7 separate regions of the Homo sapiens genome follow, and regions 1, 2, 3, 4, 6 and 7 are each linked to region 5. Evidence: fine-mapped expression QTL. A gene starts in region 5. Each other region holds a variant in brackets. All regions are shown on one strand. Distances are from middle to middle.

Region 1 (4,068 bases), 130 kb before region 5:
GTAGCTGGGATTACAGGCATGTGCCACCACGCCCAGCTAATTTTTGTATTCCTAGTAGAGACGGGGTTTCACCATGTTGGCCAGGCTGGTCTAGAACTCTTGACCTCGTGATCCGCCCACCTGGGCCTCCCTAAGTGCTGGGATTACAGGCATGAACCACCGCTCCTGGCCCATGTGTTTGTTTTTTATTTGCAAAATGCAGACCACCTGTGCCAGAAGAATGCATAGACTTTTCTTTTTTCTTTTCTTTTCTTTTTCTTTCTTTTTTTTTTTTTTTGAGGCAGTGTTTTGCTCTTGTTGCCCAGGCTGGAGTGCAATGGCGTCATCTCAGCTCACCACAACCTCCGCCTCCCGGGTTCAAGCAATTCTCCTGCCTCAGCCTCCCAAGTAGCTGGGATTACAGGCATGTGCCACCACGTCCGGCTAATTTTTTGTATTTTTAGTAGAGATGGGGTTTCTCCATGTTATTCAGGCTGGTCTCGAACTCCTGACCTCAGGTGATCAGCACACCTCGGCCTCCCAAAGTGCTGGGATTAAAGGCTTGAGCCACCAGGCCCGGCCTCTTTTTTTTTTTTTAAACGAAATATTTGAAGGACACACAAGTATTATACGTGGCATTGGAAATACAAAGATCAGACGATATCCATCTTCAAATGGTTATAGCATAGGGAAATAGACATTCATTTAGGACACTTCTAAAACAGCATAGAGGAGAGTGCTAGAGTACGTTATAGCAAGTGTTATCACCAAATGAATCTTAGAGATCAAGTCTAGTTTTCAAATAAAGGAGGAGGAAAATGAGTCTCAGGAAGATGCTGTCAGTTGTCAATGATGAACATAGGCCTTGTGGGTATTTTTCTTTTGAAGAATGACTTTTTTTTTCAGTTTGTTTGACAGCTTACAATATAATTTGTTACTTAACCTTACCATTAGATTGAGTTGGTCAAGACTAGCAAATAGTTTCATAGTTGAAAAACATGCTTTATTATTTATTTTTTATGTTTATTGTCCTACAAATACTACTATATTGCAGTACTCAATATCGATTAGGCATATGACAACATTTTTCTGAAAGGCAAAAAATACCTAATAAAATGAAGCCTGGTTTTTAGAGTCCTCTATGGGTCACCAAAAATGATTTCAATTGAACTGTTATGAATTGCATAATTTAGGAAAGTTATGAGTCATATGAGCTTAGTCATGATGATATCTTGTTGAAGTTGCAGCTGGGGTGTATAAGTCTCACTTTGATTTCAAAATCGTTTTCCCTTTGTGTTACTTTTAATAAAAGAGGATGTAGTGGGTGGGAGGAAAAAATATAGGTCACAGATGAGGGATGAGAAAGTTTGTATCTGAAACATGTATTTTCAAATTTACCTTGAGGTTATTGGCATGGGGATTCTCCATATTGCAGTGCTGATTTCATTATTGACAGCACCATTTTACTCAGTATTTTGACATCTGGCTTTCTCTTTTGATGTTAATTTTGCTTACTGGCTGCATTCCTTTGAAACCTAAATGCTTAACTGCCCTAACTGCTCCAAGGGAGATTTAATGTAACTCTGCTTTATATTAGTCTAAGAGATAAACCATATTTCAAGAGTAGAATGGAGAGGAATTAAGCAGATAATTGTGATGGGGAAACTGGAGAGATCCTTTTGACTTTCACAGGATTTCCTAGAACATTAAATATAGGTTTCCTCCAAGGCCAATTGTGGTTGATTTTTGGATCCTTCACCATTTTCTATTTGTGAGATAATAAGTGTATACAGCTGGAAGTGTAATGTGAAGAAAGTCTGAAAAAGATTGATAGGAAAGGAGGACAGGAATGGGCTTCATTGAGGTAACGGAAGTGAAATGAAAGGCTTTTCATATATGGGTTGAGCATCCCTAATCTGAAATGCTCCAAAATTTGAAACTTTTTGAATGCTGGCATGACAGCACACATTACCCCTAACACACGATTTTTTCACTGTTAGTGGTATATTTTTTACTGTGTAGTACTTATGTGTGAATAGGTATAACAAAA[C/T]GATTACTTATTGTAGCATGTAAAATCAGTCAGGAATGATGGTGATGCCAGACAACCACAGATTATTTATGTGGGTGGCCGAGACAGTGACACCTTTGCTTTCGAATGCTTCGTTGTACACAAACTTTTTTTCATGCAAAAAAAGTTACTTAAAAATATTGTTTAGGCCAGGCGCGGTGGCTCATGCCTGTAATCCCAGCACTTTGGGAGGCCGAGCTGGGTGGATCACGAGGTCAGGAGATCGAGACCATCCTGGCTAACATGGTGAAACCCTGTCTGTACTAAAAATACAAAAAATTAGCCAGGTGTGGTAGCAGGCGCCTGTAGTCCCAGCTACTCGGGAGGCTGAGGCAGGAGAATGGTGTGAACCTGGGAGGTGGAGCTTGCAGTGAGCCGAGATCGCGCCACTGCACTCCAGCCTGGGCGACAGAGCAAGACTCCATCTCAAAGTAAGTGAATAAATGAAACATAAATGAATTTTATATTTAGACTTGGGTCCCATCCCCAAGATACCTCATTATGTATATGCAAATATTTCAAAATTTAAAAAATTCTGATGAATGAAACACTTCTGGTCTCAAGCATTTTGGATAAGGGATGCTCAATCTGTATCTCTTTATTTACTCCTAAAATCAGCCAAGGAAATGGGCATCTCTCCGTTCCCCCCCTTCCTTTTTTTTTTTTCTTTGTTGTTACATGAGTTGTACTGGTTTCACTTCATTTGACAGTGTTCTGCTAATGACTAGACGTGTATCTCTGACCTGGACTTGTTCTCTGGAGTTCATATTCAGCTGCCCATTTGGCACTTCAAATATAACATGTCCAAAATTAGTTACCTTTTTTTTTTTTTTGAGACAGAGTCTCACTGTCACCCAGGCTGGAGCGCAGTGGCGCAATCTTGGCTTACTGCAACCTCCACTTCCCAGGTTCAAGTGATTCTCGTGCCTCAGCCTCACGAATAGCTGGGATTACAGGTGTCCCCCACCACGCCTGGCTAATTTTTTTTTTTTTTTTTTTTTTGTATTTTTAGTAGAGATGGGGTTTCATCATATTGGACAGGCCTGTGTTGAACTCCTGACCTCTGGTGATCCACCTGCCTCAGCCTCCCAAAGTGCTGGGATTACAGACGTGAACCACTGCCCCAGCCAGTTACCTATTCTTTTGATTACAAGAATGAGTAGCTGGACACAGTGGCTTACACCTATAGTCCCAGCACTTTGGGAGGCTGAGGCCGGCGGATGACTTGAGGCCAGGAGTTCAAGACCAGCTTGACCAACATGGTGAAACCTGTCTCTACTAAAAATACAAAAATTAGCCAGGCGTGGTGGTGCGTGCCTGTAATCCCAGCTACTGGGGAGACTGAGGCAGGAGAATTGCTTGAACCCGGGAGGCAGAGGTTGCAGTGTGCCAAGGTTGAGCCACTGCAGTGCAGCCTGGGCAGCAGAGTGAGACTCCATCTCAAAAAAAAAAAAAAAAAAAAAAAAGAATGAGTATCGGATACAGGTTTAGCCTAGGACTAGGCAGGGCTGCTGGTAATTGTGGAAGTAGTCTCATTGCCTAACCTGAAACTTGCATCCTGGTTACTGGTCTTGCTGGAGAGTCTTGGCTCAGGTTACGTCCCAGGTCTGTTGAGGAGCTCTTGATAGGGAATTAGTTGAAGCAGCTCATACTCTATCCTCCTTTACTGGTATAAATCCATAAAATTGTTTAGTTCCCAGGCTCTGGGGTCCCTGGCCTAGCAGAGAGCACTGCTCCCTTTTTCTCATTCCTTAGTCCCAACAACCCGCACCTGACACTTACTACACGTGGCCTGCTTCCCTGTCCTGTGTGTTTTGGGGGGTGCTGAAGAGGAAGGCTCCTGTGTCTTCAGCACAAACACAATAAACACTTCACAGCAGTACTGGCTTTATGTTTTCCATTTCTGATATCAGAAGTAGGAGCATGACATTGATAGTGTCATTTTGGGGGAACTTTTCGTACTTCATGCAGCAGAGCAGTGAAGAGTGAGCTGAGTGCCTTGGGGTTCTGCAGTACACTCT
Region 2 (4,068 bases), 69 kb before region 5:
GCCCTATGTCGATGCTGAACAAAAGAACTTATTTTTGAGGAAAGGAAAGCCCTGTACAGTAGGATTTTGTGACATGAATGTGAGTATTTATGTACAGCTTTTTCTGTAACAGCCAGATAGGAAGTTTTTATTTTGTAAGTACTTGATTTTGCAGATGAAAACAAATCAAAACACAAGTGGGGCTACATCCTTCTGGCCCATTGTTATCTACGGGTATTACTTAGGAGGAGAAGACGGAGTGCTTTCAGGTCCCTGCCTGTAGTTTCCTTCTGTGGTGGGAGGCTTTGAGCCCAGAGACTGAGAAGGACTGGGGTGGGGACTTTATGGTAAAGTTGGTTGGTTTCAGGCAGTGGGTCCTAATTATGTTTTCCTAGATTACTTACAGAACTGACTAAGATTGCAAAATTATTCAGGGTGTGATTTTGAAACAGGTGCTGAATGAGTAGGAAAGACCTAGAAGGCTGCTTGACTTACTTAAGCCAGACCCTTTTGTTCTCTAGAGAAGCATAATTTTTCTCATGCAGAATGATGGGAGAGGGTTTTAAGATTTACGAGGCTTCACAGGGAGTCTGGCTGTGTTGTTCACTGTCCACTGTGTATGTGTAGAGTCCTTACTGGAATGCCTCATCTTTAGCAAACTGGTTTCCTTGATTTTTGTCTCCTGGTAATTCTAAATCACTTGTAAAAATGGAGTAATTATGAAAGTGTTAATGACAGATGTTCTACTTTCTTGGGTACTCATTACGCGGAAGTTATTGCCTTGTGTCAAAGATGGGAAAACGTTTGATTTTAATGAAGCCCTTTACATGTCAGTTATTTTTATAAAGCTACATTGCTTCTGAATACATTGTGTTTGGGAATGATGCTGTATGTATGTTTTTTCTTCATAGGGCAAATGTGAGAAACGAGTACAGGATGTAATTGAACGATTTTGGGATTTCATTGACCAGCTGAGCATCAATACTTTTGGTAGGTGATTTCCCCAGATTACTTACTGAGAGCTGAGTCAATTTCTGTGATGACATTAGAAAAGTGTGCTTTCAGAGTGATGTGCTTTAATTCTGCAGTAGAAGGTGGAACTATTCACAGCTTTAGTTATGAAACAACTTTGTTGGCTAGAATAAAATGAACTCATAGATAGTCTGTCCCCGTGGAGCTTGGATGCACAGATTTTCTGACAAGGGAAATAAAGTCAAAATACTGGCTTCCTTCTTTACCCAAAAATATCCATGTGATTAGCATAAGCATAGTTTAATGCTATAGACTGAATCCTGATTGATGTAAGAGTGTTTATTTGACTGAATGCTATATACTGAATCCTGCTTGATGTAAAAGTGAGCCTCATATTTTGCAGAAGCAGGGTATATCATGTTGTCACGAGTCCATAATTTAATCACAAAAATAATATCCAGGTAACAAAAACTTTGTCTTCTTAAGCATTTACTAGTAGTAGCATTCCATATTAATCTGTTGACACAGCTACTCCAGGTAACATGTTGAATATTCTGCAATCTCTTCCTGTCAGCCAGTATATGAGGGCTATTTCTTTAAAAGCACTTGGTATGGAGAGATGGTGTGGTGTAATACAGGCAGCACAGACATTCTGCTCTCGGTAGTATGTCTAGCCAGCAGCTCTGGCATTTGACACAATGGTAATATCCTAAGAGCATTTCACTTTAGATTTGTGAAGTACTTGGTCA[A/G]GACATTAACTGTTTGGAATTGTTCACAGGAAAGTTTTTAGCAGACAACATCGTTGGGTCTGTCCTGGTTTTCTCCTTGATATTTTGGATTCCTTTCAGCATTCTTGTCCATTGTGTGGTAAGTCATCAACTTTTAAGTAATTAAATGTTTTATTTAAATTTTGATCAACTCCAACCATGTAATCTCTGGAAAAGGTAAAACTTGTTCTTAGCAAAGTTTGGCCTGATATTTCCAATAGCTTTTTTTGTTGTTATTCCTAGGGGAACATGTCTTGTAGAAAGCTTAACTAATGGTCTTTTAAAAAAAATACTATTTTTGTGTGTTGGTGTTTTAATATATAAATTTCTTAGGAATTTTATACTTTTAAGCATAGGAGACTGTTTAACTGGATTTGTCCAGGTCCTTTGATGAGTAAAGCCCTTATTGAAGAGCATTTTCAGGCTGACTTCGTTGCAATAGAGCAAATATCAAACATCGGCATTTCAGATGTTCCCCATATATCATGTAGATTATTGGCAGCAGATGGCTATGTCTTCAGCCTTCTGCACAAATAGGATGTAGGGACTGGGGCCCAGCTGTCATATAGAGTATTTACATCTTCCCCAAAAAATAAGAGTAAGCAGTCTTTTCTGTTCTCATTCAGAATCAGTAACAGCTACAAGTTGAATTGGGCTTTGACTAAGGAACTCCTGGTCCTTTATAAATTTGAGGCCCTTTTTCATAAATGTTCTTACGAATCCATTCACTTGCATCTGTGGGGAATGGGGATTTGTCTGCTGTAGAGATGAGAAAGTCACACCCAGGCTTCCAGACTTGTTTTCCCAAACTCTTTCATAGTGGCCTTCCTATGAGCATTTAAAAATTCCAGCACAACTCTGATGACAAAGGAGTTTTTCCTACTGCCTCCTTCCTTTCCTTTCCTGCTGGCTTCTCCTGCCTAGGGGCCATCTCACAGAGCAGCTCTTCCTCAGGGTGGTGAGCATGATGGGTATAGGAAGATCTCTAGGGAGCACTTGTGCTGAAGAAAGCTGAAGGTGACGTGCTTGAAGCTTTGACAGATGTCTCTGGATGACAGTGCCATCCATCACGATTGCTTCTATTGGAGGATGGAACCTATTTTGTTTACAGGGAAGTTGCACATGTGGACAAGGCACGACCCTTGATTTCAGAGCAAAGCCTCCGATAGGAGGGAGGGCCATGGCTTGTTTTTGGTCATAGAATGCATTGATGGCACCCAGACAGGAAGCCTAGTCCTGGATTCTTGGTCCTTGCCCTCTGTCACCTATTATGCTTCAGCCACAGGCAGGGATGGGGCAGCAGATGGCCATGTGGTTAGCCTTCTGCAGAAGTAGGATGTAGGGATTGAGGCCCAGTTCCTCCAGCAGAGCATGGTCCACAGAAACTGTGGAGACAGCTAAGAGAGTGAGGCCATGGGCCGGGGCAGTGCGAAGAATGCTGCAGGCCCAGCCACCTGGGTCTTCCTACCAGTTGCCCTTCCAGTCAGTGCGGTCCTGGTGTACCCAGCATCTGGGACATTTGTCATTTCATGCACAGGAAGATGCCTTTATTATTCCCCTGCCCACAGAGGGATAAATTTCTCAGAAAACATAGCACTTAAACCTTGCCTCTTTCTGTACTTAACGCCAAAATGTATTTCCTTTGAGTGCAAAGGAAACACTTCTAGACTGGTGGCATAACTAAAGCTTGGGTGAGAAATGGATTGTCATCTGTTGAGCCTGCTATCACTTTCTACAACTCAGGTTCTAAGTTCTTCAGTTAGTGTTAGGAATAGCCTGTGATGAAATAGTACTCACTAACTGAATTGTATTTGTAGGGAATGACCTTCTTGCTGTTTCTTTCTAGGATAAGAAATTGGATAAACAGTATGAATCTCTGTCTCTGTTTCACCCCAGTGTAAGTATACCATATGAAAGAAACATAATCTTCGCCTGGTCTGAGGCCCTGTTAGGCAAAGACCTTCACCTGACCCAGCAAGAGCTTTCACTGGCTGATGGAAGGTCATGTTGCAGCAGGAAGGGTCTAGGTTGGAATGTTTACCCTTCTGACAACAGTGATGGTGAACTTCGATTAGTTGCATGGATGGACATTTAAAGAGCTGTGCTGTCCCCTTCCCAAGCCATAAGGAGTGATTTAGCCATTCAACACTTAGTTAATATTTTGAGTTCAATTTCTCTCTTGGGATCTTACCTTGAGAGGTTTGAATCCTCTTTTGGGTCTTCAAATGGTAAGTAAGTTTTCAGGATGCTTGAAAGCTAGTAATTACTGTTTTTGCCATTAAAAGTAATGGCATTAATTACTTTTGCACCAACCTAGTATTTTTTAGTCACTTAGGTTGAGTGAGCCTCA
Region 3 (4,068 bases), 140 kb before region 5:
ATTTAAGAAGGAAAAGAACAGACACAGCTCCATATTTTATGTGGCATACAATATGTAGGATGTATGATACTTCTGCACACAATGGTGGTTCATATCAGTGGGATGTGGTGGCTCACACCTGTAATCCTAGCACCTTAGGAGGCCGAGGTGGGTGGATCGCTTGAGCCCAGGAATTCGAGACCAACCTGGGCAACATGGTGAAACCCTGTCTCTAAAAAAAAAAAAGAAAGAAAGGAGACTTTATAACAATTAAAAAAAATTCCCCCCAAAATCATCTGTTCATCAGTGAGGATCTGCAGATGTCTCTGCTTTGTCCCATGCATATTTGTCATTTTTCTAAAAGGTTGATTTTGCCCGGGCACGGTGGCTTATGCCTGTAATCCCAGCACTTTGGGAGGCCGAGGTGGGCGGATCATGAGGTCAAGAGATTGAAACCATCCTGGACAATATGGTGAAACCCCGTCTCTACTAAAAATACAAAAATTAGCTGGGCGTGGTGGCGCATGCCTGTAGTCCCAGCTACTCGGGAGGCTGAGGCAGGAGAATCACTTGAACCCGGGAGGCGGAGGTTGCAGTGAGCTGAGATCGCGCCACTGCACTCCAGCCTGGCGACAGAGCAAGACTCCGTCTCAAAAAAAAAAAAAAAAAAAAGGTTGATTTTTTCTAAAATGGGTTAAAATTTCTTAACCAAAACCTTAGAAATTAGAGTTCTTGGCACATGACTTTGTATAAAGTCCTATTTTTCATTAAGTGGCATCTGTTGTCTTATTTGTGGGTTGACTCATACTTAAAGCGACTGCTTTCCACAGATTTGTTCATCAGCAAAAAAGCATACAAATGCAGGAATAATTACCATTTTAGAAACAGTGAGGATGGCTCTATCCATCTATAAAAACTGGTGGGGTTGGTGTAAGACAAAATTGGCTAATAAGAGAAATAGAGCTAGAGAAATAGATAGAAGGAAACAAAACACCCAGCCAGAACCAGTTAGTTCTCTGGTCATTTAGACAAGGTTTTACTGGTACTTGTGTGGGTTTGGTAGTTAACTGCAGAACCATATGTGGCTCATGTGTTTAATAACTGCAAATGTTTACTCTTAAATTCACTTGCGGTATCTAAATTATGAATAATTAATTCCACAGCATGGGATTGGGGAACCTCAGGAAATATTTTTAATTATCTTTATTAAATCCTAAATTAAAAGCATCACTTCAGGTGTTAAGAACCCAGGATCCCATCAACTTGTTTACGTATTTTTTTGAACAGATGATAGTGGCTGTGTAACAAATTACCCCTAATTTAGGAGCTTTAGAACCACGAACACTTATCTCCCAGCTTCTGAGGCTGAGGAATCTGGGAGTAGCTTAGTTATAGTCAGATGGTAGGTCAGGGGCTGCAGTGATCTTAAAGCTTGCCTGGGGCTGAATTCCTTCCAAGCTCACTCACATAGTCTTTGGCAGCTCCTTGGTGTTTGTTGGCTGCTGACCTGTTCTATTGGACCTCTCCATAGTTTTCCTGAGTGTTCTCATGACATGAAAGCTGGCTTCCCCCAGAGTGTGTGATTCAAGAGGAAACAAGCAAGCAAGAGAGCACCTGAGATGGAGGACAGAGTTTCTTGTGTCCTAACCTCAGAAGTGACATCACTTCGGCTGCATGCTAGTGGTCACAGACCAACTATGGCCCAGTGTAGAAGAGGAAGCAGGCATCATTGGGGGCCATCTTGGAGGCTGGGCTACCACTGTGGCTGTCAAATCTTTGAGGTATTTATACTCTATTGGAAAACTTTAAAATAATGACCTAACAGCTTTAATTTTAAATGTCAGTATTTATGCTGAAAGTTTCATAATTTGCTACTACTACGCTAATGATGAAAAACTTTAAAGATACACCTAGGGGGTATATAGTTGTTTTTTTTTTTGAGATGGAGTCTCCCTCTGTCGCCCAGGCTGGAGTGCAGTGGCG[C/G]TATCTCGGCTCATTGCAACCCCCACCTCCAGGGTTCAAGTGATTCTCCTGCCTCAGCCTCCCAAGTAGCTTGGACTACAGGCACGTGCCACTGCGCTGGCTAATTTTTTGTATTTTTAGTAGAGACGGGGTTTCACCGTGTTAGCCAGGATGGTCTTGATCTCCTGACCTCGTGATCCGCCTGCCTCGGCCTCCCAAAGTGCTGGGATTACAGGTGTGAGCCACCACGTCTGGCCAGGGGGTATATAGTTTTAAAAAATTATTTTGGTGCTGAGTGCAGTGGCTCATACCTGTAATCCCAGCACTCTGGGAGGCCAGGAGTTTGAGATCAGCCTGAGGAACATAGCGAGACTCCACTTCTATAAAAAAAATGTAAAGATTAGCCAGGTGTGGTGGTGCATGCCTGTGGTCCCAGCTACTGAGGAGGGTGAGGCTGGAGGATTGCTTGAGCCCAGGAGGTCGAGACTGCAGTGAGCTGTGATTGTGTCACGGTACTCCATCCTTGGCTGCAGAGCCAGACCGTCTCAAAAGATAAAAGAGCCGGGCGCGGTGGCTCATGCCTGTAATCCCAGCACTTTGGAGGCCAAGGCGGGCAGATCACGAGGTCAGGAGATCCAGACCAGTCTGGCCAACATGGTGAAACCCTGTCTCTACTGAAAATACAAAAATTAGCTGGGCATGGTGGCGCACAACTGTAGTCCCACCTACTTGGGAGGCTGAGGCAGGAGAATCCCTTGAACCTGGGAGGCAGAAGCTGCAGTGAGCCAAGATCATGCCACTGCACTCCAGCCTGGCAACAGAGCAAGACTCCGTCTCAAAAAAAAAAAAAAAAAAAAAAAAAGATAAACTAATTAATCTATCCAGTGCCCCTCTTACCATATTCCTTTGGCTCTTTATCTCCCCCACGTGGTGCTCTTTTATCTTAAAAGTATGCACAATTGATAAATGAAAGATGAACTGCAAATTGGAATAATTTGGGTCCTGATTTGTGAATTGAAAAGATTACTTGAAATTTGGAATGTCCCTGGAAATCTAGGACTTCTGGTTATTCAGGCCAGGCGCGGTGGCTCACGCTTATAATCCTGGCACTTTGGGAGGCCGAGGCGGGTGGATCACCTAAGGTCAGGAGTTTGAGACCAGCCTGGCCAACGTGGTGAAATGCCATCTCTACTAAAAATACAAAAATTAGCTGGGCGTGGTGGCGGGCGCCTGTAATCCCAGTTACTTGGGAGGCTGAGACAGGAGAATCGCTTAAACCTAGGAGGTGTTCAGTCGGTTGTAGTGGGCCAAGATCACGCCATTGCACTCCAGCCTGGGCAATAAGAGCGAAACTCTTTCCCCCACCACCCCCCCCCAAAAAAAAGAAAAGAAAATGGATCGGGATTTTTTTTTTAAACGGCATTTACTAAACAGCTAAGTACCTTCTATGAGCAAGGCACTGTACAAGAGCTGTTGGGGATACCAAAATAATACAATCTACGATCTACTAAAGTTACAAGCCGGACATTATGGTGACTGGATGTTCAGAAAAGAAACCAGATGACATTATTATGGTACACCAAAAAAGCCCCCCAAAAACCGTACTCAACTGTCACATTCTTATGGAATACAATTTTTACAGATTGTATACAATTTGCATGTGAAATTCTGCTTACTTTTTGACTAGGTATGCCACTAATGGGTATGTTTAATAAAGATATTTTATACTTCAGATGTACAGACCAGGTCCGGTTAATTTTAGCCAACAATGTATTGTTGAAAAAGACGCTGATATTTTACTGCGGCAAACCACCATTAACATAAATTTTAACCACAGTTTGAGTATTTTATTAGGAATAAGCCTTGAAACTTGAATAGGACTAGTATTCCTAACAATTTACCGTTTCATAATAAAGGCTGTCTCACTCTTAAGTGGAAAACGTATTATGTCCTACTTTTATAAACTTTGGTTGAACTAAATAAAACAGCAACATGTACCCAACGTTTTTAGACTGTTTTATTCAGTACCATAAACATTCACTAAACTATACAGAGCTAAAATCATGCAAAAGATTGCAAAACAAACTGCCTTGGGAAATTTCCAGTCTAAGCTAAATGGACCAAGTA
Region 4 (4,068 bases), 57 kb before region 5:
TAGCTGTTCTGTGTTGCAAAGCCAGTCATTTGTCCTAGAATGTTGAGTTCTGGGCAGCTTAGAAAACTTCCAGTCCAGGAACGGTGGCTCACGCCTGTAATCCCAGCACTTTGGGAGGCTGAGTCGGGCAGATTACCTGAGGTCAGGAGTTCGAGACCAGCCTGGCCAACATGGTGAAACCCGTCTCTACTAAAAATGCAAAAATTAGCCGGGCGTGGTGGTGCACACCCATAATCCCAGCTACTCAGGAGGCTGAGGCAGAATTGCTTGAGCCCAGGAGGCAAAGGTTGCAGTGAGCCGAGATCGTGCCACTGCACTCCAGCCTGGCTGACAGAGCCAGACTCTATCTCCAAAAAAAAAAAAAAAAGAGAACTTCCATAATGCACATTTTCAACATTAACATACAGCTGACCCTTGAACAACACAGGTTTGAACCGTGAAGGTCCACTTATGTGCAGAGGTTTTTCAGTCAAAGGTGGATTGAAAACACAGCACTTGAGGGATGTGAAACCCAAGTATATGGAGTGCTGGCGACTCCTATCTGATCATTCCTACCCCCAGCTTCTGTGGACCAGTAAAAAGCCCCAGGTGTGGACTTCCAAGTCAAGGCACATCAGCATCAGCCCCCGCAGGCCGAGCACCACAGCTCTACACAGATCTCAGTGGCCTTCATGTGCACCCTGGAGTCTGGTAACTGTAAAGGTCAGCAGATGCCAGGCCCGCGGTTCCCTCCTGACTATCCAAAGCCAGAATCCCTTTTCTAGGTCAAAAAAGGTCTCAGGTATAACATAATGGAAGCTATAATTTAATAATTTTGGATTGAAAACAGACTGAAATGGACATACCGAGCCCCTAAGAAACAGAAGCCCCAGGCAGGAAACCACTGTCCTATCAGAGTTCCTCCCTCAGCATTCCTATCCAGATTTGCCGAGATTGGCTGTGGTTTGTTTACCTTGTATGATGCACTGTTCTTCCCAGGCTGTTTCACAAAGTGGGGTCGGCGTGATGAGAATGACTCGATTCTCAGGGATGTCCACGGACTTCAGGTACTGCACCATGCTCTTTAGGTTCGCAGCGTACTCCTCCAGGGGAATGTGCTGCTTGGGATTCTCATCTGCTCAAGAGAAACATGAGTCCTCACCAGATGCATATTTATTATAAGTGACAATTCAGGTGAACACACTTCTGCAAATGCCTGTTATTCATGATGTCACTGGGGGGATTGTTTAACACCAAGGACACAAAGAGAAGGTTTTCTCCTTATGAATTAAAATGTATAGTTCTTCATAAAACAAGACTTCAAAGGCTCTAACTAGGGGCACCGTAAGTACTCTTGTCTTTTCGTCACTAGTATCCAGATGGTTATTACATCAATTAGGTTGAATTTGTAAAGAAATTAAAGAGCCCACCCTGTTGGGTGAGACGGCCTAGGTTCAAATCCTGGCTTTGTCACTCCTCGCCACAGAACCGCAGATAAATACTTAGACTTTCTGTACCTCATTGGGAAAATGAAGATAATAAGGTCTCCCTCCTAGGACTGAAAATCAAAACAGCTAAGAGTTTACAGCACTGAGAGCAGTGTGCCTTCACAAAGCAAGCACTCAGTCTAAACAAATGGCACCCACGAATACTACTATTATTGCAAAGGAGTATTTTCTAGATAGGCTCTCACTGAAGTATTACAAGGGTCATTGTTTACCATTTGCTAACCACATGTAAGTACAGTATAAAGGAAAAAAGTCACCAATGTTCCTACCACCCAGAAAACCACTGTTGGCATTTGGATGTATATCTTTCCGGTCTTTTCATGAAGATACATACACTTTTAAAAAAATGAGTTTGCACTGAAGATTATATTCACACTGAAGACTTCATATTTTGCTTTTCTCTACAAATTGTTTTAGAGACAGGTTCTCGCTCCATCACCTAGGCTGGAGTGTAGTGTGATCACAGCTCACTGTAACCTTGAACTCCTGGGGCCAAGCGACCCTCCCACACCTCAGCTTCCTAAGTACTGGGACTACAGGCACGCAACACCACACTAGGCAAACTTTGTTGTTATTGAGACAGAGTCTCACTCTGTTGCCCAGGCTGGTCTCAAACTCCTGGCCTGGCCTCCAGTGTTGGGATTACAGGCATGAGCCACCACGCCTGGCTCACATAACATATTATGAGCTTTTCTGTGTCCATAAATAGTTTGCAAAAAAATGAAATTTAGTTGTAGGGTGACCACATGATGTT[T/A]CCGTACTGTACAGCTTGTAATCTACTGTTATATATAAATAGCAATACACGGCCAGGTGCGGTTGCTCATGCCTGAAATCCTAGCACTTTGGGAGGCCGAGGCAGGTGGATCACCTGAGGTCAGGAGTTCAAGACCAGCCTGACCAACATGGGGAAACCCTGTCTCTACTAAAAATACAAAAATTAGCCAGGCGTGGTGGCGAGCGCCTATAATCCCAGCTACTCGGGAGGCTGAAGCAGGAGAATCATTTGAACCTGGGAGGTGGAGGTTACAGTGAGCCGAGACCGTATCACTTCATTCCAGCCTAGGCAAGAGTGTGAAACTGTCAAAAAAAAAAAAAAAAAAAAAAAAAAAAAAAAAAAGCAATACACAGAAATCTCCGCACACACATCTGGCTGCGTATCTGAATATTTCCTTAGGTTGAATTTCTACACGTGGGCCGTCCCTTGGCGCATATTGCCACACAGCTTTCCAGAGGATCACAAGCTATTCTCTCACCAGGAATGTAAGAGTTCCAATCTTATTTCATGCGTGTCAGCTGTAAGTATTACTGCTTCATATTGCTTTTCTGAGTCAAAAAATCAAAATACCTTGTTTTAATTGGCATTTTTTGATAAGTTTTCACACATTTTCAAATATGTATTTGCTGTTAAATTTCGCCTTTTATCTATTCCTGTCCTTTGCCTACATTTTCTATTGGAGTTGGTATTTTTCTTATTGATTTCTACACTAAAGACATTACTCTCTTGTCTGCCACATTTTGCAGATATTTTCCTTAACACATCATTTTCTTCTTCAGTTTTTTCGCAGCCTATTTTATTTCATAAACCTGTTTTTCCTCTGTGGCTTCCTCCACTGCTCTTATACTTAGGAAGTGTTTTTTCCTTATGCTAAATTTGATAAAAATTTATCTTTTTAAAAAATTCTGTTTTGAGTTTTCTTATGGTTTTTGGTACAAGATAGAAAGTGAAGATTAATTTCTTCCCAAATATAATGGTTAGTGTGCAGTCTCCACCGATACCTGTCATCTACGTAATCTTTCTCCTAGAGAGCAAGAATTCCTCTTACTGCAGTTGGTGTTCCTTCATGTCCAGCCTCAACTCAGAGGTCTCCTACGGTGTGCCCGTGAATAGCAGACCACAGCACTTCTGTGACACAAGTAGGGTAACAAAAGAAATCTCTGGAAGGTGACTACCTAACTTCCCAAAACAAAGGCTGATTTTTCTCGTCGATAGCACGCAGAAGGCTTTTTTCAAGAGTAGAAGGGGAAGAAAGGCCTCTTACATGGCTAGCTTTCCTCTAGTCACAGCAGCAATTCTTCAGCAGTCAAGGAGAGACCATCTCCTTTTCCAAACCCACGTTCACCATTGCCCAGGATTCAAGCCTAACTGAGGTCAGGGTGGCTGCTGCCCTGACATATCCCTCCCTAAGACACGCCACCAGCTGCCATCAGTGTGATGCAAGCCACAAGGTATCCTTAAGCTTTCTGCTGCCAAATGCATCAACTAAAGAGAACACATTACAAACTTAGCATAGCACTAACAGACTCTAGAAAATATTTAACTGTTTGCAAGATTAGGACTGCCAGCAACCAAGGTATGTAGAAACTGAGTCAAGAATAAAATCCACCAGTGTTAAAGCCAGGAATACATATAAACAACATAAGTTTGGCAAAACTGTATCTATTGGGAGAAAGTAAACAGTTGAAAAAAGTATATTAAATGCAAGTTTGCTGTAACATAAAAATGATTAAAAGTGAGCTAGAAGAACATCAAAAATGCTTTTACCTTTTAGTGCACTGTCATTGGCCCCAAAGAAAATTGTAA
Region 5 (4,058 bases):
AATTTACTCCAGAGTTGCCCCATCTCTTATACTCCTTGAGTGAATAACACTACCCTTTCCCAACTGCCAAACTTAGGAATCTGATCATAACATCCTCTCTGCCCTGCCTTCCCTCCCCACAACCACCCTTCCAGATACAGCTGATCAGCCACAAAATCCTGAAGATCTCATTTGCATACTCTCTCACACTCACATCACTCACTACAGGCTCTCGTCAGCTAGACTTAGAATCTTTCAATATCTCACTGAATCTGCTCTACTCAATCCATGCTTTTATTCATCCATGCTTTTATTCATCTGCTACACTGCTGCCAGGAGAGATTTTCCTAAAACATAATTCCCACAATATCCATGCTTGCTTAATAGCCTTCGCTGGCTCCCTGTAATTGACTTGATAAAGGTCCAAACTCCTGTGTATACGAGGTGCTTCCTAAACTGGACCTCAACTGCCTGTCGCTTCATCTGCTAACTCAACTCTTTAGCTACAGCCATGAGGAATCTGGCCACAAGCTGTGACCACTCTCACTTTCATATGTGCCACTTCCACTGCCTAGAACATCCTGGGCCCCCCAGTCTTTAACTCCTACTCATTCTTTAGGACTCAGCTCAGGCATCACATTTTTCAGGATCCACGAGGTATCCTTTTTTCCTCAATCTGTCAGAAATCCCTTTTCCATACTTTCACAGTGCTCAGTGCAATGCCTGCCTGCGTTCTTAGATTAGCTATTATTTACAAAGCACCTACCGCGATGTTCACTCTTCAAGTTTTATCTTATTTCCATATGAGAAAACGGGTTCAGTGAGATTGTTGTCCTACTAATTGGTCAAGTAGATAATGGACTTCAGGTCTGACTTCAAAGTAATAGTCTCCTATTATTCCAAAGTATCTCTCCAATATTTCCCACTGTGCACTGTAATTCTCTCCAAAAGAGCGAGAGCAATTAACTGGGCCCTCTGTTGCGTCTATATCCCCATGTGTGGTGCTTGACACTTGCTCAGTGTTTGCTCATCACAGGAAGACATGACAGGTGTGAACTAAGCAGAAGGAAACGGACTATGTCCCAAGCAGGTGCTCAATGAAGCCTTACTGAATGATTGTGTAAAGGAGATACTTTCTACCTTTTGGAAAGCGTATATTCATGTTGTGCCAACTAGTATCTAACAATAAACATGTTGTGGGTTCGAAATGCTCATCTGTAGGAATTCAAGTTCTCTACATTTGCATCTCCCCTTCAGCAGCATTCCCGACTGATGAGGATCGTGTCCACTGAAAGGCCACTCTCCTTATGGACAGTCGAGGGCTGAGTTTTTGTCCCTAACACCTCTGCACTTTCTCTTCTCCAGCTTTACACCTTCCTTATTCTACTAGGGCCTGAGCTGAGAAGATCGAAACTCACGGCAAGTCCCTAATATTTTCTAACTTCTGGCACATGTGAAGCCCTGGTGTTAAGAAACAGACTTAATTCTTCCCTGCACGGCTGTAGCCTCATTCAGGTCCTCCTCTCATCCTGTCGGTCATAAGCTTCACCGGCTCCCTCACAGCTTGCCCTGACGCGCAGAGATCCGTGCTTGTGCTAAGTGAAAACGCTTCTTAGCGTGTACGAAAGCGAGCGGTGGCCCCGTAAAACTTTTTTTTTTCCGACTCCAACATACCCTCCCCTGAAACTGATGAAAAAGCAAAATCCCGTTCACTCTATAGCAGGCCCCTTCCGATCAACGGTCCTCCAACCCCTCGAGCCTGAGAAGCCTGGCCCGCAAGCGCGGACCAAAGGCAGGCTGCCGGGGTAGGTGGGAGCGCGGGCGACGGAGGAGGCCAGTCTCCGGTTACCCCTCGCGCCCCTCACAGCCCGTGGCTTCATTCCCTCTCTCGCTGGTCCCTTACAGGGGTCGGATCAGCAGCTGGTCGCTCTCCTCAGCAGGAATCGCAGACATCCCGAAAGTGTGAGGGCGAAGCGGGGGTGAGGAACAGGTCGCCGGGGTCTTCCTAAATTGGAAGCACAGCCACCGGTAAATAAAAAAGGAAGAACCCCATTCACCAAGAGCACAACTTCCGTCACTCCGGAGCCCGCGGCACTAGACTCCTCCCCTCGACTTCCGGTCGGGGGACGCCGCTCGCGAGGCTTCCCACCACTTGGGGTCTTGGAACCGGGGGTAGGACGTCAGGACTGCGCCTGCGCATAGTCTTGGAGGCGCGGCCCGGCGGACGTGGGCAGGAGGGCTGGAAAAGCCGGCGCTGGAGCGGGAACGGGAGTAGCTGCCTGGGCGCCAAAGGCCGCGGCACTCCCACGCGGACCCCGAAGTCCGCAACCCGGGGATGGGCCCGCGGCTGCGAGGTGAGCGCCCAGCCCTCGTCCCGCTTGGGGCCGAGCTCGCGGAGGCCTGACGGGAACACGGTCCCGAGAGCGGCGCGGACGGCCAGGAAGGATGGGTGGGGCCGCGGGGCGGGCGGAGGAGGGATGCCTGGGCTCGGGCTTGGTTCCGGGCGGGGCCGCGCTCCCGGGGCGCGGGTGGAGGAGCTTGGAACCACGCAGATCGGGCGTGGGCTTGCGGACTGCAGCTTCCCGAGCCGCTGTCGCCCCGGAGGGGCGGCAAGGCGGGCGGCCGCGGGCCGTTTCCTTGCCTCTTCCTCTGCCCCGCTTCGGCCGCCTCCCGCCTCTCAGGGTCGGGGTTGTCTGTCCCCTTCGCTGTCACATCCTCCGCACCCAGCGCTTGGAAGGTGCTCCATCACGGTGACAGACAGGTGCCAAGCAGGCTGGCGTCTGGGAGGAACTTCGGAGCCGGCTCTCCCTAGGCCCCGAGCTTGGCCGCATCCGTCCTTACTCTGGTGACCCTGGGCAGGTCACTGACTCTTCGGGCGCTTTGGCATCCTCGTTTGAAAGGGGCTGTTATCCTGCAGCCTTGCTGGTCGGTGAGGGTGAGGGTGAGAGGGATCTGTGCACCTAGCACCGTGCATGGCACGTGGTAGGCGTTTGGTACATGGGAATCGCTGTTGGGGTGTCACCTCCCCAGAAAGTTCTCGGCTTCAGTAAGCGCGTCCCCTGCCAGGCGCCCTGGCAATGCAGAGGAGTCACCGAGCTCCGCCTTTGACCAGCGTGCAGCTGGGAGAGTGAGATCAGAGACCACAGCAGATCGTGGCGCTGTGATCAGGGGGTACACTCAAGCTGTGGGTCCCTTACCCCAGCCTTGAGATCCCAGGAAGGCCTGCAGCCTGAAACGGGCCTTGAAAGGTAAGAAGTAGCCAAGTGCCTGACAGGTGAAGGACGTCCCGGGCGGTGCAAAGCAGGGGCGCGTGGAGCATCGCGCTGAGAACCAGGAGCAGCTTTGCCTTGCTGAGATCAATGAACTGTGCCCGGGTTGTGGAGGATGGAAGTGGAAAGGTGATTAGGAGCTGGGTCCTGGAGGACCTGGCGTGTCGTGCTGAAGAACGTTGACTTTGGTCTCTGACTTTGGAGAACCAGTGAAAGATTTTCAGCAGGCTAGTGGCATTAGATTCATGTTTGAAAGAAATCATTTTAATCGTTTTGGCTGCAGTGTGGGGGTAGATTTAAAGTGTTAGGGAATCCAGTAGGACAAGGTCCCTTATCCACGAAATATCCTTGGGTTTGTGAATTCCTTAAATTCATGCCAAACTTTGTATGGATGTGCATTTTTATAGGGTGAGGATCCATCACATTCATCAGTTTCTAAAAAAATAGTGTCTGTGCCCATGGTTTAGGATGACGGGGGCCCTGGTGGAGAGCTGGCTCAGAGAGCTCTTCAGGTGGGGTATACAGTGGGTCTTGGTGCCAGATTGGATGTGGGGCCTGAAGGACAGCAAGGAAATCATGATTTTCTGGCTTCCTCCAGCAATAATAGAATCTCCTGACAGGGAGAGGAGAGGAGAGGAGCAGATCTGGAGGGGAGGATGATGGGTTCAGCTTGAGACATCTTTGCATTTGATGAGCCTGCGGAGCATCCAATCGCCAATCAGGATCATTGGCCTCATTTTGATGCATGAATAATTTTTTTTTTTTTTTTTTGAGACGGAGTCTCGCTCTTTCGTCCAGGCTGGAGTGCAG
Region 6 (4,068 bases), 41 kb before region 5:
TTCAGGCATGCTCTGACCCCTCATTCAACAACTCAGTGCATCAACAGTAGCAAAAGAGTGCAGAGCTCACAGTCTGGCACTTCCTCAGAAAGTTAAACAGTGAGCATTTGACCTAGTAATTCTACTCCTAGGTACAGATCCAAGAGAAATGAAAACATATGTCTGCAGAAAAACTTACATCCAAATCTCCACGGTAGCACTATTCATAAAACCCATAAAATAGAAACAACCGAAGTATCCATTAACAGATGAATGGATAAACAAAATGTGTTGTGTCCATACAATGGGAAATTATTTGGCCATAAAAAGGAAGGAAGTACCAATTTATGTGACAACACGGATGAAACTTGAACACAGCATAGTGAAGGAAACCAGTCATCAAAGGCTATATATTGTATGATTCCATTTATCTGAAACGCTGAGAACAGGCAAATCCAGGGAGGCAGGAAGTAGATTAGTGGTTGCTTTGAGTTGGTGAGAATATAGAGATTGGGGCATCATACGTAAGGGATATGGGGTTCCTTTTCGGAGGTGTGCATTTATTTATTTATTTATTTAGAGACAGGGTCTTGCACTGTTGCCCAGGATGGACTGTAGTGGTATGATCACGGCTCACTGTAGCCTTCACCTCTGTGCTCTGGTGATCCTCTCACCTCAGCCTCCCAGGTAGCTGGGACTACATGCATGCATCACCATGCCCAGCTAATTTTGTGTGTGTGCGCGTGTGTGCGCGTGTGCGTGTGTGCGCGTGCGTGTGTGTGCGCGTGTGTGCGAGTGCGTGGGTGTGTGCGTGTGTGTGTGCGCGCGCGCGCGTGTGTGCGTGCGTCTGTGTGCGTGCGTCAGTGTGCGTGTGCATGCGTCTGTGTGCGCACGTGTGTGCGTGCGTCTTTGTGTGCGTGTGTGCGCGTGCGTGCGCGCACGTGTGTGTGTGCGTGCGTGTGTGCGCGTGTGTGTGTGAGCGCGTGTGTGTGTGCGTGTAGAGACAGGGTTTTAGCATGTTGCCCAAGTTGGTCTCAAACTCCTGGGTTCAAGCAATCTGCTCCCCTGTGCCTCCCAAAGTGCTGGGATTACAGGTGTGAGCCACCATGTCTGGCCTGGTGTGATGTAAATGTTTTAAAGTTGATTGTGGTGATGGTTGTACAACTCTGAATATGCTAAAAAATCATTGAATTCTACACTTTATATGGATGAATTGTATGGTATGTGAATTATGTATCAATAATGCTGTTACAAAGAGTAGTGCAGAATTTTAAAATCCTTCAGACAACACACACACACACACCCCATATATATGGATATTGTCATCATTTCATTTCATGTTCATAACAGACTTCACTTTACAAAAGGGCTATCAGAATATAATGAAGAGAAGGCAACCTTGGTGGCATTTGATTGGGATTGAACAGACTAAGATAGGAAGTGAAGGCCAGCTGAGCTCTTAGAAGGATGGGGGGCCTTAAGAGTTGAAAGCTGGGCTGGCCCAAATGTGAAAATCTCAAGTTTGGATGGGAAGAAGTCAGTTTGATAAATAATAAATATACATAACCAATTTCCTCTTTTATATATTTTTTATATATAAACGCGCG[C/T]GCGTGTGTGTGTGTGTGTGTGTGTATGATATGGGGGAAAATACCAGAAATAATCTTATGGCCTCACCTATAAACAGGAAAATATAATATAAGACTGTAATTTCTTTCTTCTTTTTTTCCCTTAGAAACAATGTCTCGCTCTGTTGCCCAGGCTGGAGTGCGGTGGTGCAATCATAGCTCACTGTAACCTTGAACTCCTGGGCTCAAGTGATCCTCTCATCTCAGCCTCTCAAGTAGCTAGGCCTGTACGTGTGTGCTACCGTGCCTGGCTAAGACTCTGTCATTTCAAAGAGACTTCAAAAATTATGATTTCTTCAATGCACTTTCAATTTCCCAGCCCAAGTAATTACTTTCTCATGTAACACTATGACTTTTTAAAATATTGTATCATGTAAGTGTAGCTTTATTAACTCACTTCTGCACTCCCACATACCTATTTCAATCTACTCTACGGAAAAGACTCAACTTGTCATTTCTCCTAAACTATTCTAGAATTCAAACCATACTTCATCTAATTCTTTTTAATTCGTGAATTTCAATTGTATATACAACTAACTACTCGCCTGTAATCCCAGCACTTTGGGAGGCTGAGAAGGGAAGACTGCTTGAGCCCAGGAGTTGGAGACCAGCCTTGGCAACATAGCAAGACCCCATCTCCATTAAAAAAAAATAGTAAGCCCAGGTGCAGTGGCTCACACCTGGAATCCTAGCACTCTGGGAGGCCAAGGTGGGCAGATCTCTTGAGCTCAGGCATTTGAGACTAGCCTAGGCCACATGGTGAAACCCTGTCTCTATAAAAATAGAAAAATTAGCCAGGCGTGGTGATGTGCGTCTATAGTCCCAGCTACTTGTGGGGGCTGAGGTGGGAGGACCACTTGAGCCCAGGAGGTCGAGGCTGCAGTGAGCTGAGATTGCACCACTGTACTCAAGTCTGCGACACAGTGAGACCCTGTCTCAAAAAATAAAATAAAGTAAAATAAAAATAAAAATATTAAAAAAACACAAAAACAAAAAACTAACCAGGTGCTAGCCAAGAAAACTATATAACAGAATTTTATACTTTAATTATAATCATTAGTTTCATTAATTACTAAAATAAGCACTTAATTGACATGTAAAAACAATCTCACAAAATATATTACAAAATAAATATCTAGGCTATGAAACTATCAAAAGAAACTTTCCAAAGTTTACGTGTGTATATATATGTATATATATATTTGCAAATTCCTGCATTAATATTTAGACAAACTCATCAGACACGAGATCATATTAAACACAGAACTATACAATCAGACAGGTATACCTGTCCTTAGTAGGTCTGTGTGTCAAAACAGGACACACACATGCTGAAAACAGGTGCCATGTAAAATAGAAGAATGTTATGGAATATAAAAACAAAATAATGTATTTTGAAAATATATAAGATTTCCCCTTTGGTTAAGAATGGGGACACATAAATTGTGGTTGGTTAGACACACACACACACACACACACATACACCACAGATACAAATACAAGTTGTGTTTCCAGAATCTGGACTGAAGTGTCAGGAGGCTAAGAAATGAAAAGGGAGAAAAATGCCATCAAGGAAGAATCGGATTGTTTCACAGAGGTGCCTTGAGAAGAGGGCAACTTTTTCTGTAAATGGCCAGATGGCATTCTAGGCTTTGTAAACCACAGGGTCGCTGTTGCAATGACTCAGTTCTGCTGCTGTAGCAGGAAAGAGGCATCAGAGATGATGAACCAGTGCGCACGGCTGTGTTTCGGTAACACTATACTTACCAAAGCAGGCGGGCTAGGTGTGGCTTGTGGGCCACAGTCGCTGACTCTGCTCTAAATGTGAAAATCCCAAGTTTGGATAGGAAGAAGTCAGTTCGATAAATAATAAATATACAGAATCAACTTCCTCATGAGCAGCATAAGTGTCACATGTACCAGTTCTTGCAATACTTGTCACCTTTGAAAGGAGCAAGTGCTACTTATTAAAACCTGTCACTTAGCCCCACGAGTGACAACTGTCCATGCTGACATATCACATACATACCCTGGATCATTATCTTAAAGTTCATCCTGTCTGTTCTCTTTCTGTCACCACTTACAGCTAATCCAACAGGAAATACTGCTGGCTTTATTAGAACACCTCCAGAATCCAGCACTTTGCGATATCCCCATGACTTCCACCCTAATCTGAGCCACTGTCTGCCACCTGGATGACTGAAGAAGCTCCCAGCTGGAGCCTCTGCTTTCTTGCTTGCCCTCCTAACAGTACTTTCAGCAAGCACCACGGCAGTCCTTTAAAAACTCCGTCAGATCCTGTCTCAGCCCCGCTCAAAGCTCTGCAGCATAGCCTCATTTTACTCACACTGAAAGTCTGAGGTCCTTACAATAGCCAACAAGACCCTATGGGATCTGCCCAACTCCAAACCCTATCAGGAAGCCCTGGGACATGCCAGAATGTCAGATCCTTGGAGGGGGCAGA
Region 7 (4,068 bases), 120 kb after region 5:
ACTATAAATGAGGCCATGCCAAAATCTAAATGGCAGAGGTTTCTAGGGGCCCAAAGCGACTGTCAGCAAGTCCATCAAGGTACTCTCTCTCCCCTCCTCACTCAAAGCCCTAGCCCTCAAGCCCTCCTCAAGCGAAGCCTATGGACTCCTAATTTGCACCCAAGTCTAACAAGCCAAGTCACCTTGCTCTTCAGCTCGCAGCATCGTGAAACAGAGACCTTAGAGGCACCCAAGCACTGACAGCAGGAAAAAGGGCAACCAATAGAAAAAGTGTCAGAATATTAAAAAGCAAATGTCAGAAACGGACACCTAATAATAGTCCAGGACTAATCCAAGGGCGGATATTCCCACGTACCCCAAGCCACTGGGGATGTCTCTAGATTTCAGCATAGTTCATTAGTTTATGTCTAAAACAGTGACTTAAATCTTCCTCCCAAAAAGATGATACTATGATCATTGCTCTTGTTTAATTAAAAAACAAAGTAAGACATTTAAGAATCTAAGACATTTGCAATACAAGAAGTTAGGAGAAAGTCTATGGAAGTACTGAGGGTGAGGACCTCTGGTAGCAAGATGTCTATATTGAGTGACGAGACAAGCCTTACTAATATGGACAATCAGCTCACACTTAACCTAAGCCTGACAGCACTGGGCAGAGTCCTGCTGTACTAGTACCAATGCAGCCAAGCCAGGATGCCCCTCTGCCAGGTGCAGCACATATGAGAAAGCCACAAACTACTGCTTGTCCCAACAGAACCTTACTACCTCCCTAGTAAGGTTAGCTATAATGTCTTCTGACCAGGCGTGGTGGCTCACACCTGTAATCCCAGTACTTTGGTATTACAGGTGGTGGCTCACACCTGTAATCCCAGTACTTTGGGAGACCCAGGCGGGTGGATCACTTGAGGTCAGGAGTTCGAGACCAGCCTGGCCAACATGGAGAAACCCCGTCTGTACTAAAAATACAAAACTTAGCTGGGTGTGGTGGCTCGCGCCTATAATCCCAGCTACTTGGGAGGCTGAGGCACAAGAATAGCTGGAACCCGGGAGGCGGAGGCTGCAGTGAGCCAAGATCGTGCCACTGCACTCTAGCTTGGGCGACACAGTGAGACTCTGTTTCAAACAAACAAACAAAAAAAGTTGGCCAGGCATGGTGGCTCATGCCTGCAATCCTAGCACTTTGGGAGGCCGAGGTGGGCAGATCACGAGGTCAGGAATTCAAGACCAGCCTGGCCAATACAGTCAAACTCCGTCTCTGCTAAAAATATAAAAATTAGCTGGGCATGGTGGCACGTGCCTGTAGTCCCAGCTACTCGGGAGGCTGAGGCAGAAGGATCGCTTGAACGCGAGAGGCAGAGGCTGCAGTGAGCCAAGACTGCACCACTGCGCTCCAGCCTGGGCGACAGAGCGAGACTCCGTCTCAAAAAAAAAAAAAAAAAAAAAGGCTTCTAACTCACATCATCTGTGTTTGGGAAAAAAAAAAAAAAAAAGGCCGGGCGCGGTGGCTCACGCCTGTAATCCCTGCACTTTGGGAGGCCAAGGCGGGTGGATCACGAGGTCAGGAGATCGAGACCATCCTGGCTAACGTGGTGAAACCCCATCTCTACTAAAAATACCAAAAACTAGCCGGGCATGGCGGTGGGCACCTGTAGTCCCAGCTACATGTGAGGCTGAGGCAGGAGAATGGCATGAACCTGGGAGGCAGAGCTTGCAGAGAGCTGAGATTGTGCCACTGCACTCCAGCCTGGACAACAGAACGAGACTCCGTCTCAAAAAAAAAAAAAAAAAAAAAGATGATGGATACACACGTTGCTTGGTAGAGCTTTCCATTTCCTCTATCAACATGGGTGAGGGAAAACTCCTTAGCCCAGGGTCACCTCAGATCTCATGCTGCAACTCTGTCCTCTCCTCAGCACCCATTGGCTCCTGCTTTCAATGGATGCTGATCTTCATGTGGAGCGGGTTCTGCAGACCGTGAGGACATCTTTCACTAACAATCCTCTAACACTGGAGACAGAGACTACATATCTGTAACAAACCTTTCAGAAACCTGCCCTGAAATGCAGCCTTTCATTAGAAAGCCACTTCTCAGCACAGAGGTGGCCCTTGGAGTCTTTCCAGGATTCTCACATCCATTGGGGAAGAGGAAAAGAACCCCTGAAACTAGGCTGACTTCATAAGCACTTTAATTTCACACATGTCACATTTCTGGAGCCGTCTGGTTTTCCCTTTCATCCTGCATCACCGCAGAGAAAATTCACAGACTTCTGCAGGTGAGAATCTCACCCATTAGTAAGAAAATCTTGCTTTATATTAAGCTGGCATTTCTCTGGAGATCTTCCAACTGCTTTATAAACATTCTTTCACGCCTCCAAGCAGGTAGGTGGTAATTGTTATTCTTTCTGGACAAGAGGTAGCACTGTGAGTCTTAGCCAGACAGAACTGAAATGTTTTAAATGCCC[G/A]AGGGAAAGCAAAAGCAAGGCTTGGAAGATATGAGATAAGCCAGATGTGACCAAAAACAGGAAGAAGAATGGTGCACAAAATTCCAAAAAAGGAGACTTCCGCCATAATCCGCTCCCCATTTGCCCAGCTTTGCAGGAGCCGCCACTGGGCCTTCCTCTGGCTGTGCAGCTTCCACACCGGCGCTGGCCTGGAAAACCAGGCATGGTGAGTGCTAATTTTGGCTCATGTAAGAAATTTTCTCTCTCTTTGATCTTTGCCAGGAAATAGGATCAACAATCCGACTTCCATAAAGTGCAAGTTGAAACTTGAACCCTTATGATCAGTCAAGAAGGTGACAAGAGGCCATGGTTCCTTTAAATGTCACAATGACAACAACTTGGGTTTGGAGTGTTAATACCTGGGTTTGAATCCCAACTCTGTCCCTCACTAGCTAAGGGCCCTGTAAGTGACTGTGTGCCTTAAGAGGATGGTGATACAAACTATCCTGCACAGCTGCCAAGAGGAATAAATGAAACAGAGTATCCTTCATGCATAGCCCAGTGATTGCTACACCGGTGGGTGCTCATCAAATCACTGCCACAGATACCTTTATTGATACCTTTACTCTCTGTAGAAAGCTGGACAGCAACTAGGACCTGCAGTGATATGTGAAGTATTAAAAACTGGCAAAGCCACAGGGTGGTGAGCAATGTACCAGCTGTAACATGCAGGCCCTGCTCTGCTTTCTGCTTTTGCAGGAAATTTTATAAAGGAGAAGGAGGGATTCCTTTTATTTAACTATGCAGCTGCCCTTTTGTTAACTGAGACAAGTTAGTTTCGTCCGGATTCCATGGTGTGGAGTGCTCCAAGTGGGCCTGCCTAGGCAAGGACTCTGAGCCTCCCAAGAGAGATATTAGCTGCTGCTTCTTTTGTTTTTGAGACAGGGTCTCACTCTCTGTCGCCCAGGTGGAGTACAGGGGCGTGATGTCAGCTCACTGCAATCTCCGCTTCCTGGGCTTAAGCAATTCTTCAGCCTCAGCCTCCCGAGTAGCAGGGACTACAGCCGTGAGCCACCACGCCTGGCTAAGTTTTGTATTTTTTTGTAGAAACAGGGGTTCCCCATGTTGCCCAGGCTGGTCTTGAACTCCTGGGTTCAAAGCAACCCGCCCACCTTGGCCTCCCAAAGTGCTGGGATGACACATGTGAGCCACTGTGCCGGGCCAGATATTAGCTCTTCAAACCATTCAGGGCCTCAGTTATCTAATCTGTAAAGTGGGGATGACATTGACTGACCTTATGGGATTGTCATAAGAATTAAGTAAGCTATCCTGTGTAAGAGTCACCGGCTGGCTATAATCTATCCACACAATCAGGTATGGTATTATTATCTCCATGTTACAGCTGAGACAATCCAGGTCTAGATATCAGCTGAATAAAGGTAAAAGGGCAGTCTGGGAGTGAGAAGCAGAACCCGGGCCTCCACCCGTCTCCTACGTCGTCAGCCGTCCTGGGCTGGCTGCTTTCTAGGCCCCCTGCTTGGCAGCCCCGCTGGGACTTCCCTTCGCCATGATCCTCTTGGAATTCCCTTCCACTGCTTGCTTTCCTGTGTTGGGTCCTGTTTCCTGA

Direction of the effects. Positions count from the first base shown, and alleles are read on the strand shown. Sizes are in standard deviations (SD) of each study's normalised expression. Not every link is listed here.
With allele C in place of T in region 6, the expression in pituitary of the gene that starts at base 2,178 in region 5 is higher (moderate effect, 0.41 SD a copy in GTEx).

Evidence for each region. PIP is the estimated chance that this variant, and not a neighbour inherited with it, causes the effect.
Region 1: its variant is fine-mapped to the expression of ITGB1BP1 in whole blood (TOPMed, PIP 0.94).
Region 2: its variant is fine-mapped to the expression of ITGB1BP1 in whole blood (TOPMed, PIP above 0.99).
Region 3: its variant is fine-mapped to the expression of ITGB1BP1 in blood mononuclear cells (TOPMed, PIP 0.96).
Region 4: its variant is fine-mapped to the expression of ITGB1BP1 in whole blood (TOPMed, PIP 0.95).
Region 6: its variant is fine-mapped to the expression of ITGB1BP1 in pituitary (GTEx, PIP 0.93).
Region 7: its variant is fine-mapped to the expression of ITGB1BP1 in whole blood (INTERVAL, PIP 0.98).

What each region holds. Positions count from the first base shown.
Region 1 is chr2:9,549,885-9,553,952 of GRCh38, reverse strand. All of the region lies in intron 1 of ADAM17 (ADAM metallopeptidase domain 17), which reads left to right. Among named protein-coding and RNA genes, the nearest start is that of ADAM17, 3.9 kb to the left of the region's middle. The variant C/T (reference allele first, on the strand shown) is at 2,030.
Region 2 is chr2:9,490,648-9,494,715 of GRCh38, reverse strand. ADAM17 (ADAM metallopeptidase domain 17) reads left to right here. Exons shown (of 19, transcript NM_003183.6): 15 at 1-79; 16 at 891-969; 17 at 1,730-1,818; 18 at 3,565-3,615. It also overlaps a transcript of IAH1 not described here. Among named protein-coding and RNA genes, the nearest start is that of IAH1, 18 kb to the right of the region's middle. The variant A/G (reference allele first, on the strand shown) is at 1,701.
Region 3 is chr2:9,556,644-9,560,711 of GRCh38, reverse strand. No RefSeq gene overlaps it. Among named protein-coding and RNA genes, the nearest start is that of ADAM17, 2.8 kb to the right of the region's middle. RefSeq lists a silencer at 3,958-4,068. The variant C/G (reference allele first, on the strand shown) is at 1,963.
Region 4 is chr2:9,478,332-9,482,399 of GRCh38, reverse strand. It overlaps IAH1 (isoamyl acetate hydrolyzing esterase 1 (putative)), which reads right to left. Exons shown (of 6, transcript NM_001039613.3): 3 at 4,030-4,068; 4 at 953-1,114. Among named protein-coding and RNA genes, the nearest start is that of IAH1, 5.8 kb to the right of the region's middle. The variant T/A (reference allele first, on the strand shown) is at 2,242.
Region 5 is chr2:9,421,648-9,425,705 of GRCh38, reverse strand. ITGB1BP1 (integrin subunit beta 1 binding protein 1) reads left to right here and starts at 2,178. Exons shown (of 7, transcript NM_004763.5): 1 at 2,178-2,333. It overlaps CPSF3 (cleavage and polyadenylation specific factor 3), which reads right to left and starts at 2,052. Exons shown (of 18, transcript NM_016207.4): 1 at 1,883-2,052. The coding sequence starts at 1,932. RefSeq lists enhancers at 1,816-1,865, 1,906-1,955, 2,826-2,875, 2,869-3,727 and a silencer at 2,386-2,685.
Region 6 is chr2:9,463,086-9,467,153 of GRCh38, reverse strand. The region is part of intron 15 of CPSF3 (cleavage and polyadenylation specific factor 3); the gene reads right to left. Among named protein-coding and RNA genes, the nearest start is that of IAH1, 9.4 kb to the left of the region's middle. The variant C/T (reference allele first, on the strand shown) is at 1,587.
Region 7 is chr2:9,299,545-9,303,612 of GRCh38, reverse strand. The region is part of intron 3 of ASAP2 (ArfGAP with SH3 domain, ankyrin repeat and PH domain 2); the gene reads right to left. Among named protein-coding and RNA genes, the nearest start is that of ASAP2, 95 kb to the right of the region's middle. RefSeq lists an enhancer at 3,462-3,961. The variant G/A (reference allele first, on the strand shown) is at 2,463.